Homo sapiens: one gene and its partner. The protein of the gene in region 1 purifies or fractionates together with the protein of each later gene. This does not show direct contact. Each region holds a gene or a part of one and is shown in the gene's direction. Other genes may lie near its edges. The genes, in order: CREBRF and ATF1.

What was found.
Region 2: the proteins of CREBRF (region 1) and ATF1 purify together in Homo sapiens (affinity purification with mass spectrometry; 2 studies listed by BioGRID and IntAct, with this or other methods). This does not show direct contact.

Annotation. Positions count from the first base shown.
Region 1 is NC_000005.10:173,059,065-173,066,351, forward strand, and holds part of CREBRF (CREB3 regulatory factor), read left to right. Parts: intron 1-1,348; exon of another isoform or gene 1,349-1,444; intron 1,445-7,287. UniProt on the Homo sapiens protein: Acts as a negative regulator of the endoplasmic reticulum stress response or unfolded protein response (UPR). Represses the transcriptional activity of CREB3 during the UPR. Recruits CREB3 into nuclear foci.
Region 2 is NC_000012.12:50,816,048-50,821,896, forward strand, and holds the end of ATF1 (cyclic AMP-dependent transcription factor ATF-1), read left to right. Parts: intron 1-3,587; coding exon 3,588-3,732; 3' UTR 3,733-5,115; downstream 5,116-5,849.

The DNA of each region.
Region 1 (7,287 bases):
TGGGATTACAGGTGTGAGCTACTGCGCCCGGCCTGATTCATCAATTTTTGTAGTACTTTGGCATGACTGACTCAGTTCTGTTAATAATGATACATAAAAACGTAATCCCTGATTATTTGATAAACTTGAATTCTTACGTATAACTTTTGCAGTAAATAAGGGTATTAGCTTATTTATCAGTTCTTCTTTTTCTTTTTTTTCTTTTTTTTTTTTTTTTGAGACGGAGTTTCGCCCTTGTCGCCCAGGCTGGAGTGCAGTGGGAAGATCTCGGCTCACTGCAATCTCCGCCTCCCGGGTTCAAGCAATTCTCCTGCCTGAGCCTCCTGAGTAGCTGGGATTACAGGCGCCCACCACCACGCCCGGCTAATTTTGTATTTTTAGTAGAGACGGGGTTTCACCATGTTGGCCAGACTGGTCTTGAACTCCTGACCTAAGGTGATCTGCCTGCCTTGGCCTCCCAAAGTGCTGGGATTACAGGCGTGAGCCACCGCGCCTGGCCTATCAATTCTTATTTTATCAGGTGGCATTGTGTTGCTTTTGGAACCCTAGCCCTTACAATGCCCTAATTAGTTTAACAGAGAAGTATAGTGAAAATAAAAATAAACACTTTTCATTGATACTTAGAATATTCCAGGCAGTTTTCACTGTTGCATCGGTTGATAAAGTCAATCAGCATTGCTTATATAATGCTCTCTTATTCTAAGAATGGCAAATAGATGCAATAGAACTTATTTGGGTATAATTCCTTCATATGACTGGTATATCAGCTTTGGGTTTTTTATATTCATAAGCATAGAAGAGGCTAAATAGCTCCCGAAGAGAGTCTGGATGCTCCATTTACCATCATTCTCTGTCATGGCAGGTGAAAGCAAGCTTTTATATAGACAATGTTCTACTTAGTTTACAGGGTGTCTACTTAGTTTACAGGGTGGATGTGTGTGGGTTCTGGGATACTAGTGTAAGAAGTAAAGGAATAACTAGCATGGTTCCTGGTGGTGGTTAAATACAAGTGACAGTGAAGTACAGTAAGTTTGTGTGTTGATTCTGTTAATATAACTCAGTTTTTAAAAGATAAAGAGAACTGAAATCACTGTTTGCTTTTAAAGCTTAATTTTCAGTCAAGATCGGCATCTATATATTTATTTAAAAAATACATATATATATATATGTTTTTTTTTTTTTTTGAGACGGAGTCTAACTGCGTTGCCCAGGTTGGAGTCCGGTGGCGTGATCCTGGCGCACTGCAACCTCCGTTTCCTGGGTTCAAGCGATTATCCTGCCCCAGCCTCCCGAGTAGCTAGGATTACAGGCGTGCACCGCTATGCTCAGCTAATTTTTGTATTTTCAGTAGAGACAAGGTTTCACCAAGTTGGCCAGGCTGGTCTTGAACTCCTAATCTTAAATGATCCGCCCGCATTGGCCTCCCAAAGAGCTGGGATTACAGGTATGAGCCACCGTGCCCCCTCTAGTTATGTGATTTTGAAATGAATTAGCAGTCGCTTGTTTCCAAGTAGGGTTGAACTTGGATTTTTTTGAGGAACAATTCACTGACACTTTCACCATATTCAGTAGCTCATTTCGGGATAGGTAAACTCTTAGACGAGACATAAATTTGTCAGATAATTGGTTCTGATTATTTTAAGACAAGGGTTGACAGACTTTTTTTTTTTTTTTGGAACAGGATCAAATAGTTAATATTTAGGCTTTTTCAGCCTTCCAGTCTCTGCCACAACTACTCAACTTTGAATCTGTAGCATGGAAACAGCTGTAGAAAATATGTTCTACATATTTTTGGGCTCTATTCCAATAAAACTTTATTTACAAGGTCAGGCTGTGCCTCTATTTGTGCTTCCACGGCTATAGTTTGTCAGCCCCTGTTGTAAGACATCAGTCATTGAGGTTTTTTGTTTGTTCGTTTTTTGAGACAGAGTCTAGTTCTGTCCCCCCTGCTGGAGTGCAGTGGCACGATCTCGGCTCACTGCAACCTCCGCCTCCCGGGTTTAAGCGATTCTCCTGCCTCAGCCTTCTGAGTAGCTGGGATTACAGGCGCCTGCCACCGTGCCCAGCCAAGTTTTGTATTTTTAGTAGAGACGGGGTTTCACTGTGTTGGCCAGGCTGGTCTCAATCTCCTGACCTCCTGATCTGCCCGCCTCAGCCTCCCAACGTGCTGGGATTACAGGCGTGAACCACCACATCTGGCCCAGTCACTGAGTTTTAAGTACTTAGATGTTAAGGTATTTCAGAATATACAAATAGACACTTTAGGTACATTTGAGCATTTGCAGATTGTACAGTCTCCTGCCTTGAAGAGAATTTTTAGTACAAGAGCATATGGCAACATTGTATTTTGTATTTTTCCTTCGTTTACATATAAATGTTTTCTTGAAAAGCTGTTTAAAGCAAATATTGGTATAAATCCTGTTGATTTTAGAGATGCAGTCTGATTGAAAAAACTTTGGCCCTAAGATATATTCAGGATATGGTCCTCTTGAAGTTTCAAAGCACATTTAGCATATAATCCTTAACAAAGCTGTATAGCTGTTTCAAGAGATGATAGTCACGTGAATAGTCAACACATGTAGTTCTTATATTCAAATATGCAGTTAATTTAGAAGTTAAGACATTGAGTGCTCATTGCCTGAGATGCTTGAAGAATTAAAGAGAGTAGGATGCTTTTTCCAGGCCCAAAAAGATACAGGTTACCTCCTCTCTTTTTCCAGGGAAAATGTCAAGTCGTGCTAAGTGCCTAGTGAAGCAGAGATGCCGTAATCTAAAAATATAACTGGGAAATACTAAATTTTTTTGATAACTTTTGCTTTATTTTTAATGTAATATTTCACCATTTTTGTTGACTTGAACTGGATTTCAAGTGGAAGCGTAAAAGTTTAGAAAAGAGAATATATTGACCTTTATGAACTGAGAAACATGTGGCCTGCAATCTTGTTTCTAGATCTAGCTAACCTAGGGTCTGCCTGGATGACTACAGATAATCTCAGTTTATTAATTTGTAGTGGTAGGGATTAATGATGTTTTCCATCTCACAAGGGGATACTGGGAAATTTTTAGTTACTGTATTCTTAAAGTCTTGTACTTTGAATATGCTAATATTTCGGTCTGCTTGAAACCACTTCTCAAATCTGGATTCGATTTTCTCCTGGCTTATTTGTCTTCCCATTAAACTATGAGCTCCTTGAGGTCAGAGTCTGTGTTTTATTTCTATATATTCACTGCCTCACACTGTGCCTGATACCTTTTAGTGCTCTTGAACTGTTTAAATGAATGCATGCATTGCTGAGAACTGCTTATCTGGAAAGTAATAAAGTCTACTATTAGAGATGTTGGGCTTTTCTTAGTTAGAAAGGAGGAATTAATCACCGTCTGTTCAAACAAAAAGCCTTCATTCTAAAATTGATCCGTTCTTTTAAGAAAGTTTTTAGAGAAGCTATTTTGATGATGTTTAAAAATCTCTTTAGTTCCTTTGTTAATTTGTTTTCAGATGAACTCCATTAGTTAGACTTGTTGAATATTCCTTGCAGGTATTAAAAAAAAAAAGTTGTGCTTTGTTCTTTGGATTTGTCCTATTTGGCAAATGTGGATGGAATCTCTTATTTCATACAGGTTTGGGATAATTTTTCATCTACATAGTAGGGTCTTTTTTTAAGGAGGGCACTGTAAAATCATTCTTTTTTTTTTTTTTTTTTGAGACGGAGTCTTGCTCTGTCGCCCAGGCTGGAGTGCAGTGGTGGGATCTCGCCTCACTGCAAGCTCTGCCTCCCGGGTTCACGCCATTCTCCTGCCTCAGCCTCCCAAGTAGCTGGGACTACAGGCGCCCGCCACTACGCCCGGCTAATTTTTTGTATTTTTAGTAGAGACGGGGTTTCACCGTTTTAGCCGGGATGGTCTCGATCTCCTGACCTCGTGATCCGCCCGCCTCGGCCTCCCAAAGTGCTGGGATTACAGGTGTGAGCCACCGCGCCCAGCCTGTAAAATCATTCTTGCTAATAAGTCTGACTCACCTCTGTGGGGTAGGCTAGGATTTGGATCGAGTTTGACGCAGGGTGCGGCAGTAGTATCACCAGCCAAGCCTTATATGCATTTCACCAATTTATGACCTTTCCTCCAAAATCTATATTGTAACTCTCCTTCCTAAACAGCTTTCTAAACTACTGCTTTCCGTACTTAACTCTTGGCAACATAAATCATCCTACACTCTGTCCTTTCAACACCAAAACCACTTTTATATCTTTTGGGTATTACTGATTTTGAGAATTTCCTATGAAAGCCTCACAAATTTCCTGATTTCTTCTTCTCTATTTTTTTTGAGACAGAGTCTCACGCTGTTGCCCACGCTGGAGTGCAGTGGCGCCATCTCGGCTCACTGCAACCTCTGCCTCCTGGGTTCAAGCGATTTTCCTGTCTCAGCCTCCTGAGTAGCTGGTATTACAGGAGCACGTCACCACACTCAGCTAATTTTTTGTATTTTTAGTAGAGGTGGGGTTTCGCCATGTTGGCCAGGCTGGTCTTGAACTCCTGACCTCAGGTGATCCACCTGCCTTGGCCTCTCAAAGTGCTGGGATTACAGGCGTGAGCCACCACACCTGGCCTGCTGATTTCTTTTTCTTAATTTTTAATTTCTTGATTAAAAAGAATTTTTGTTCTTTTTGACTTTTTTTTTTTGAGGCGAGTCTTGCTCTGTCACCCAGGCTGGAGTGCAGTGGTGTAATCTCTGCCCCTGCGACCTTCGCATCCTGGGTTCAAGCAATTCTCCTGCCTCAGCCTCCCAAGTAGCTGGGACTACAGGCACCTGCCACCATGCCCGGCTAATTTTTATATTTTTAGTAGAGACAGAGTTTCACCATGTTGGCCAGGCTGGTCTTGAACTCCTGACCTCAAGCGATCTGCCTGCCTTGGCCTCCCAAAGTGCTGGGATTACAGGCGTGAGCCAATGCACTGGCCTAAAGTTTTTTTTCTTAAAGACTAGTGTGATAGTAAAGCTTGCTGTTTTTTTTGTCCTCCAGTTTTTTTTTAGATTCTTGTTGTACATATGTTTTCTTCAGTATAATATTTTGTCCTGAGGGTTTGAGGTGCTCCTTTTATAAAAGCAGTTTCTTTTTTGGCTGCTGATGGAATTGCTGCCTTTTCTATTATAGGTTAGTCATTTACTGAGAAATTTAAAGCATTACAAAAATAAAACGTTGATATGGGGAGGAATTAGGGGTAGGGTGGGTGTACTTTTGAAAAGATTCATTGTAGAATTCCTTAAAACAGCAAGGCTTCTAGCATCCTAGTGGTATGGTATAAATGAGGTGGACTCATGCAGTTTTTGTTGTTGTTGTTTGAGACAGGTCTTGCTCTGTCACCCAGGCTGAAGTGCAGGGGCACGATCACGGCTCACTGCAGCCTTGACTTTCCAGGCTCAAGCAGTCCTCCTGCCTCAGCCTCCTGAGCCTCCTGACTATCTGGGACTACAGGTGCGCACCACCACACCTGGTTAATTTTTTTTTTTTTTTTTTTTTTTTGAGACAGAGTCTCGCTCTGTCGCCCAGGCGGAGTGCAATGGCACAATCTCGGCTTACTGCAACCTCCACCTCCCGGGTTCAAGCGATTCTCCTGCCTCAGCCTTCCAAGTAGCTGGGATTACAGGGATGTGCCACCATGCCCAGCTAATTTTGTATTTTTAGTAGAGTCGAGGTTTCTCCATGTTGGTCAGGCTGGTCTTGAACTCCCCACCCCAGGTGATCTGCCTGCCTTGGCCTCCCAAAGTGCTGGGATTACAGGTGTGAGCCACTGCGCCTGGCCCACCTGGCTAATTTAAAAAATTATTTGTAGAGAGAGAGTTTTACTATGTTTCCCAGGCTGGTCTTGAACTCCTGAACTCAAGTGACCCTCCTGCCTCAGCCTCCCAAAGTGTTGGGGTTACAGGTGTGAGCCACTGTACCTAGCTGTACAGTTTTTGAACTGCTTTTTAGTAAGGTTTTCATCTTTACCTTTGAATCCTCTACTAGAGTTGCCCATAGACTAGGAGAGGAGACACACATTGCAGCCCAATGTTACGATGGTTTTTCAGAACAAAATGTTCTGAAATATGGAAGAAGGACTGCTAACTCTGCCTGGGGAAAGTTGAATATTCATTGAAAAAGTGGTGTTTGAACTTAGTTTTGAAGATTAGTGAAGGAGGCATTCTAGTACAGCTGAAGTATAAAAGATGTGTAGTGTGGGGTTGGGTATGAGATGGTTTGAGCTAAGGCAGAGGTGGGAGGGAGAATGGAAGAGGAGGAAACTGATGTGTAAGATTTAGGAGGAAATAGCTTTTTTTGCTTTCACTTTGTCCTCTAATTCTCTTCAGTCTGTTCTATGCTGTCAGGTCTCCAGTCTCTTTTCCCTGTAGCTCCCTGTACCTCTGACTTTGGTTGATTGGTTTTTTCCCCTAGTGTTCCATTTTTCTTTTAGTCCCACCTTTTCTAATGTGTTGGTACTAAAGTACCTTTCATTCTGACTCTATTTGTCTCTTGCGTTTATTTCACCTCCCACCCTCCCTCCCTCTCTCTCTTTATTCCCTTTGGGTTATATTTCTTTCCTTTTCTTTTCCTTTTTCTTCTTCTTCTTTTTTTTTTTTTTTAAAGACAGGATGGTGCAGTGGCACAGTCATGGTTCACTGCAGCCTTGACCTGGGGCTCAAGTGATCCTCCCACCTCAGCCTCACGAGTAGCTGAGACTACAGGTGTGTGCCACCATGCCCAGCTAATTTTTTTTGTAGAGACAGGGTTTCCCCACATTGCCCAGGCTGGTCTTAAACTCCAGGGCTCAAGCCACCCACCCACCTTGGCGTCCCAAAATGTGCGATTACAGGCGTGACCAACCGCACCTGGCCCCTTTGGGTTTCTCTTTGCCCCTACCTTTCCTTTTTATTTGCTTTATTTTATTTTTTATTTTTTTTGAGATGGGGTTTTGCTGTGTTGCCCAAGCTGGCCTCAAACTCCCGGTGTCAAACAATCCCATCTCAGCCTCCTGAGTAGCTCAGGCTGCAGGCGTGTGCCACCTCTCATTATCTTTTATTTAAAAGCAAAACAAAATAAATTCTTGCGCACTATCTGCTTATTTTACATGTAAATAGCAAAATAAGCTGATTCCCTCTTGGGAAATCTTGTAAGATCAACTAGCTTTTGATACCTGTTCAAAGACTAATTATCCATTTCTGTGAATTTCTTTTTATGAAACATTTTCCTTTGTATTCAAAGATGCTACTTCTTCAAAGGCCACAGTGTAGAATGTGACTGCCTATGTGCC
Region 2 (5,849 bases), on another chromosome or scaffold:
AATAGGGCTGGGCGTGGTGGCTTATGCCTGTAATCCCAGCACTTTGGGAGGCCGAGGCGGGAGGATCACTTGAGCCTAGGAGTTCAATGCAAGCCTGGGCAACATACCCATTGCTACAAAAGATAAAAAATTAGCCAGGCATGGTGGCGTGTGCCTAAAATCCCAGCTACTCGGGAGGCTGAGGTGGGAGGATTGCTTGAGCCCAGGGGGTTGAGGCAGCATGATCGCACCACTGCACTTCAGCCTGGGCAACAGAGCAAGACCCTATCTCAAGAAAAAAGAGAGAATGGAAAAATAGGTAACAGAGACTGGGAACGGTGAGGGGCAAGGAGGAGGATGAAGAGAGTTAAAGGGTACAAACCCATACACAGTAAGATAAAAGGAATAAATTCAGTGTTTCATAGCAGAGTAGGATGACCACCCTTAACAAAAACCTATTAATACTCAGGTGATGGACACCCTGAATCCCCTGACTTGATCGCTACACATTATATACATGTAACAGATTTTCTCATGTGCTCCATAAATATGCACAGAAACATTTTAATGGAAAAAACCATACAGGCCAGGCGTGGTGGCTCACACGTGTAATCCCAGCATTTTCGGAGGCCAAGGCAGGAGGATCACTTGAGCCCAGGAGTTTGAGACCAGCCTGGGCAATATAGGGAGACCCCATCTCTAAAAAAAATTTAAAACATTAGCTAGATGTGGTAGAGGCAGGAGAATCACTTGAACCTGGAGGCAGAGGTTGCAGTGAGCCATGATCACGCCATTGTACTTCAGCCTGGGCAACAGAGCAAGACTCTTGTCTCAAAAATAAAACAAACAAAAAAAAACACACAAGTAGTTAATAATCATATAAAAGACTACTCAGCCTTATTAGTAATCAAAGAAATACACATTAATGCTACACATTTAGATACCCTTTATACCCACCCAATTGGCAAAAATTTTAAAGTCTAACCAAGAGTTGGCAAGGATTTGGAACAATGGTCAGGAATTCATAGATACTACTATAGGAGTGTAAATTGATGCAGCCATTTTGGAAATTAGGCCTTATCTTGTACAGTTGACGTGGGTATACTCTGTGACCCAGCTGTTTTAGTCTGTGTGACTGAGAGGAACTTGGAGGAAGTATGTATAAGAATTTTCATAGCAGCAAAAAATCAGGAAACAACCTCAAGATTCATTGATAACAGAATAGGTACATATTGAGCCTAAACATAAAAATGGGGGGAAAAAAGAATAGGTACATAAATTGTGACTGTATTTATAGAATGGAATGTTTATTTGTAATGACTGAATGAATAATCATTTCAACATGAATAAATCTTAGAAAAATTGAATGAAAAAACAAGTTGCAACAGAATACACAAAGTATGATATTTTATAATTTTAGAAAATAAATGATAGCAGTTTTAGGGTCATATACGTATATACTACAACTATAAAAATAAGAAATGAGATGTCACGTAGCAAAAATTATAAAGTGGTAATACTGTCTGTCATTGGGCATATAAGGAAAAGGGTACCTCACATACATTACTGAGGGAAGTACGGAGTTTTATGGTATCTACTTGCCCCAACATTTCTACTTGTATGTGACAAAAGATACCATAAAGAAACTTAAAAATAAGTCTGTTAACTGGGAAAAATATTTGCAACTTTTATATAAAGAGAAAGAATTACGAGATGTATAGGTTATATAAAGATTTATTTCTGTAAATAAGAGACCTAACAGAAGGAAACCGGTCTGTGAAAGATGGCCTTGTAAACATGAAATTATTCCAAACTTTGTGCATAATGAGGGAAATGTTAAAGCAGTGAGGTTCGCTTTTTGTCAGCCGCTAGACTGACAACCATTTTAAAATGTTCATAACAGGCACTCTCATGTACTGCCCCTGGGAATGTAAATGGTACAAATACTCTGGAGGACATTCTGGCATTTTTTCCCTTTTTTCTTTCTGGTTTGACTCTGGGATTTTTTTCCTTCCTTTTTTCCCCCCTTATTTCTCTGTACTTCAATGAATATAAATTGGCACTATCTCTTGACTTTAAGTGAATATAGCTTGTGATCCTTCAAGAAATACATGTGTAGAAATACACGTAAAGAATGGAGGCTGAGTGGGTGGCTCATGCCCATAATCCCGACACCGTGACCAGGAGTGAGACCAGCCTAGGCAACATACTGAGACCTCATCTCTACAAAAATAAAATTAGCTGGTGTGGTGGTGTACACCTGTAGTCCCAGCTACTTGAGAGGCTGAAGTGGGGATATCTTGAGTCCAGGAGGTCAAGGTTGCAATGAGCTGTGATTGTGCCACTGCACTCAGCCTGGTTGACAGAGTGAGACCCTGTCTCAAAACAAAAGAAGAAAAAAGAAAAAGAATGTTTACTGGAAACCACTTAAAACAAACAAACAAACAGAGCTTAAAGGTAAAAATAAAGTCTTTTTGTGAGGGGAAAGATTTTGTACAGTCCTTTTAAAGATGTGTACTAAAAAGCAAGTTGCAAATAGTATCTACATATATAGCATAAAAATCTTAAAATAGTACTGTTTCTTTCTTTCTTTCTTTTTCTGAGACAGAGTCTTGCTCTGTTGCCCAGGGTGGAGTGCAGTGGCGCGATCTTGGCTCACTGCAACCTCCACCTCCCAGCTTCAAGTGATCCTCCTGGGTCAGACTCCCAAGTAGCTGGGATTACAGGCATGTGCCACCACAGCTAATTTTTGTATTTTTAGTAGAGATGAGGTTTTGCCATGTTGGCCAGGCTGGTCTCGAACTCCTGACCTCAGGTGATCTGCCCGCCTTGGCCTCTTAAAGTGCTGGGATTACAGGCATGAGCCACCATGCCTGGCCAATACTTCCGATTTCTATATGTATATAAACTTACATATGACTTCACAGAAATGTTTTAAGAGGACATGCACAGAACTGAGTATTTGCTCAAGCATTGTTTGTAATTTGAACTTAAATAAAAGAAGTCATGTGTCAGAAGTTAACCAGAGGACCCATAATTTCACTCTTTGGTATTTATTCAAGAGAAATGAAACCTTTCTACAAAAAGACTGGCACAAAAACATGCCTATGCAGCTAACCCTAGAAACATCGCAAGAGACTGGATACACAAATGGTGGTTATATTCATACAGTGAACTATGTCCAGCAGTGTGAAGGAACAAACCCCCATGCAGCAACATGGATGAACCTCAGATGGGCTGAGTGAAGGGACACCAGAGTACATAGTGTATGACACTCTTACATGAGGTTCTAGAATAGGAAAAAAACTAATCTCTGGTGATAAAAATCAAAACGATAGTTGCTTGGAAGGGGGCTGACCAGGAAGGGGCATGAGGGAACTTTCTGGGACAGTGGGAATGTTCTGTTGTCTTGACAGAGGTGTGGGTTATACAGGTATACACAATTGCCAAAACTGACTGAATTCTACACTTAAGATCTATGTATTCTCTGTGTGTAGATGATACTTTAAAGAGAAAAAAAGGTGACCACGGAAAATTACTGAAGAACATTTACCATTTAAAGAATGTGAAGTTTTTTCTAACATTGTTTTTTTAATGCTCATATTTAGAGAAGCTGCTCGAGAATGTCGCAGAAAGAAGAAAGAATATGTGAAATGCCTGGAAAACCGAGTTGCAGTCCTGGAAAATCAAAATAAAACTCTAATAGAAGAGTTAAAAACTTTGAAGGATCTTTATTCCAATAAAAGTGTTTGATTCCTAAGAAAGAAAATATTTTTGTGGACATGCATAAAAATTAAATGGATTTCCTAGTGGAGTTTTATAAATTAAAAGGTCAAAACTGAAGCTTTTTATTTAGGCTTTTCCAAATCAAGGATAAATATCTTACGCACGATATCTAGTGACAGAGGAGAAAGTGGAAAATGACCTCAAGGAAGCTACGGGCACAACTGGAAGCTTTGTAGAAATTAAACATATTCAAGGAGCAAGAAATGAACTTTCAGCAGTCTAAATTTTCTAAATAACCAATAGTTGCCAATCTAAAATGGCAGAGAAGATGAAATTTGATAAACTGAATTTTTTTTAAAAATCCATTTACCCTACAGGTTTGCATTTGTTTGCTGAAATTTACCTTTTTTTAGTTATATATATGTGTGTGTGTGTGTGTAATTTCTGCCAATAAATTCTAAATTACAAAGGTAAGAGAAAACCTAGTACATTACTAAATATATAAAGTATATGTTCTGATTATGTATACTTGTTCTAGTGTCAAGTCTTTTTAAGTGGGTTTTTAAAAGTTTGTTATTGGACTTGAATGGATTTTTGAGACTAGGTTAATTATTTTTGAGGTCTTATCCTAAAAGGCATCTAAGGTACATGAATGGAGTATGGTGATTTTATAACATTTTTTATCAGAATGGAAAAAGAACTGTTTAAAAGTTTGATACTTTTAAATAGTTGGTTTTTTTGCTTACTCTGGTAATGATTTTCTACAAATACATAATAAATTGTTTTTTTGAGTCTATATTCTGTATGCAGTTGAATATCCATTACTTATTCTGCTGTGCTTTAATAGAATGGAATGTTTACAGGCCCTTAAAATATTATTTTTAAAAAACCTTCTGAAGATACATACCAAAGTTTTTCCAAGAAGATTTTATAATCAATTTAATAATGTAAGGTTTATCAGATTCTATAATAGTATAGTTATTAAGGCAATTTTATGTTAGAGACTATTTTGTAATGTAGTGAGTGGTACCTTTATAAGAAAAGTGACTGCCAATATATTTTTATAGCTGATCTTTATAAATTCTAATGTTGAGTTTTTAATGATTATTTTAAATGTTTATATAGTTTAGTAAAATTTGCATCTCAAAGTATCATTTTTATATTATGGGACGTTTTCAGATTGGCTAATATTTGCATTGTAAATTTTGTATGCAGTTTATCTAAAATTCAAAAATACTGTCAGTACACCAGCGTTTAACATCTATATTCCAATTTGTATACAGTTTAAAATTGTACTGCAAAACTATTGTGTGCTCTTACACAGTATGCATCATATTGTTGTCTGTGAAATTAAAGGACATTTGATAGTCTACTGAATGTAAAATATAATGCTTGGTATATGAATGATAAGCTTGCTCCTGGCCATGCTGTTAATTATCCTAATGCTACGTAGAAATCTTCACTTAACTGATACATTTGTGTTTGACCCTCCTGATGAAATTTCTCATTAGAAGGGTCTTTTAAAATGGGACTCTGTTGACTTGGCAGCACTTTATGAAAAGAAAAAAAAGTTTGATCGCCAGGGGGATTACTTATATCACTTACTACCTTGTGTAAAGCCAGAATCTCAAACTGGTGGCCCGTTAGGCCTAAGAATATGAGGAGGTATGAGGTCACTGGGTTATGTCAAAAGACTTTTTCAACAGATGATAATATATTATTGGGTAGACACCGTGCTTGTTTACAACAGAGGTAGCCTAGCTCTTAGTGCCTTAACAGCTGGACATCTGCAAATATTTGTAAACTCTGCTGCCTTCAGACTTCTGGTGTAGGGCCTTGCTAACTAGACCCAGTTACTTACTCTAGCTGTATGAAACAGGTCAGGGCAAACCATTAATGGTTCCATAAATGCATAACAAATTATTTTCCTGGGTGTTTTTCTAATTGGAATCCAATGTGGGGCTTATCAAATTTTTAAGTGATTATAGTCCAAACATGAAATTAGACTTCCAAAATGCAAAAGACTAATCAAATTATTTCCTTAGTTCAACTTGCTATTTTACTTATCAATTTACTCATTTATATATTATATTGATAGAAATAGATTATTGTCCACAAACACATATAGGGCATATAAGATATTC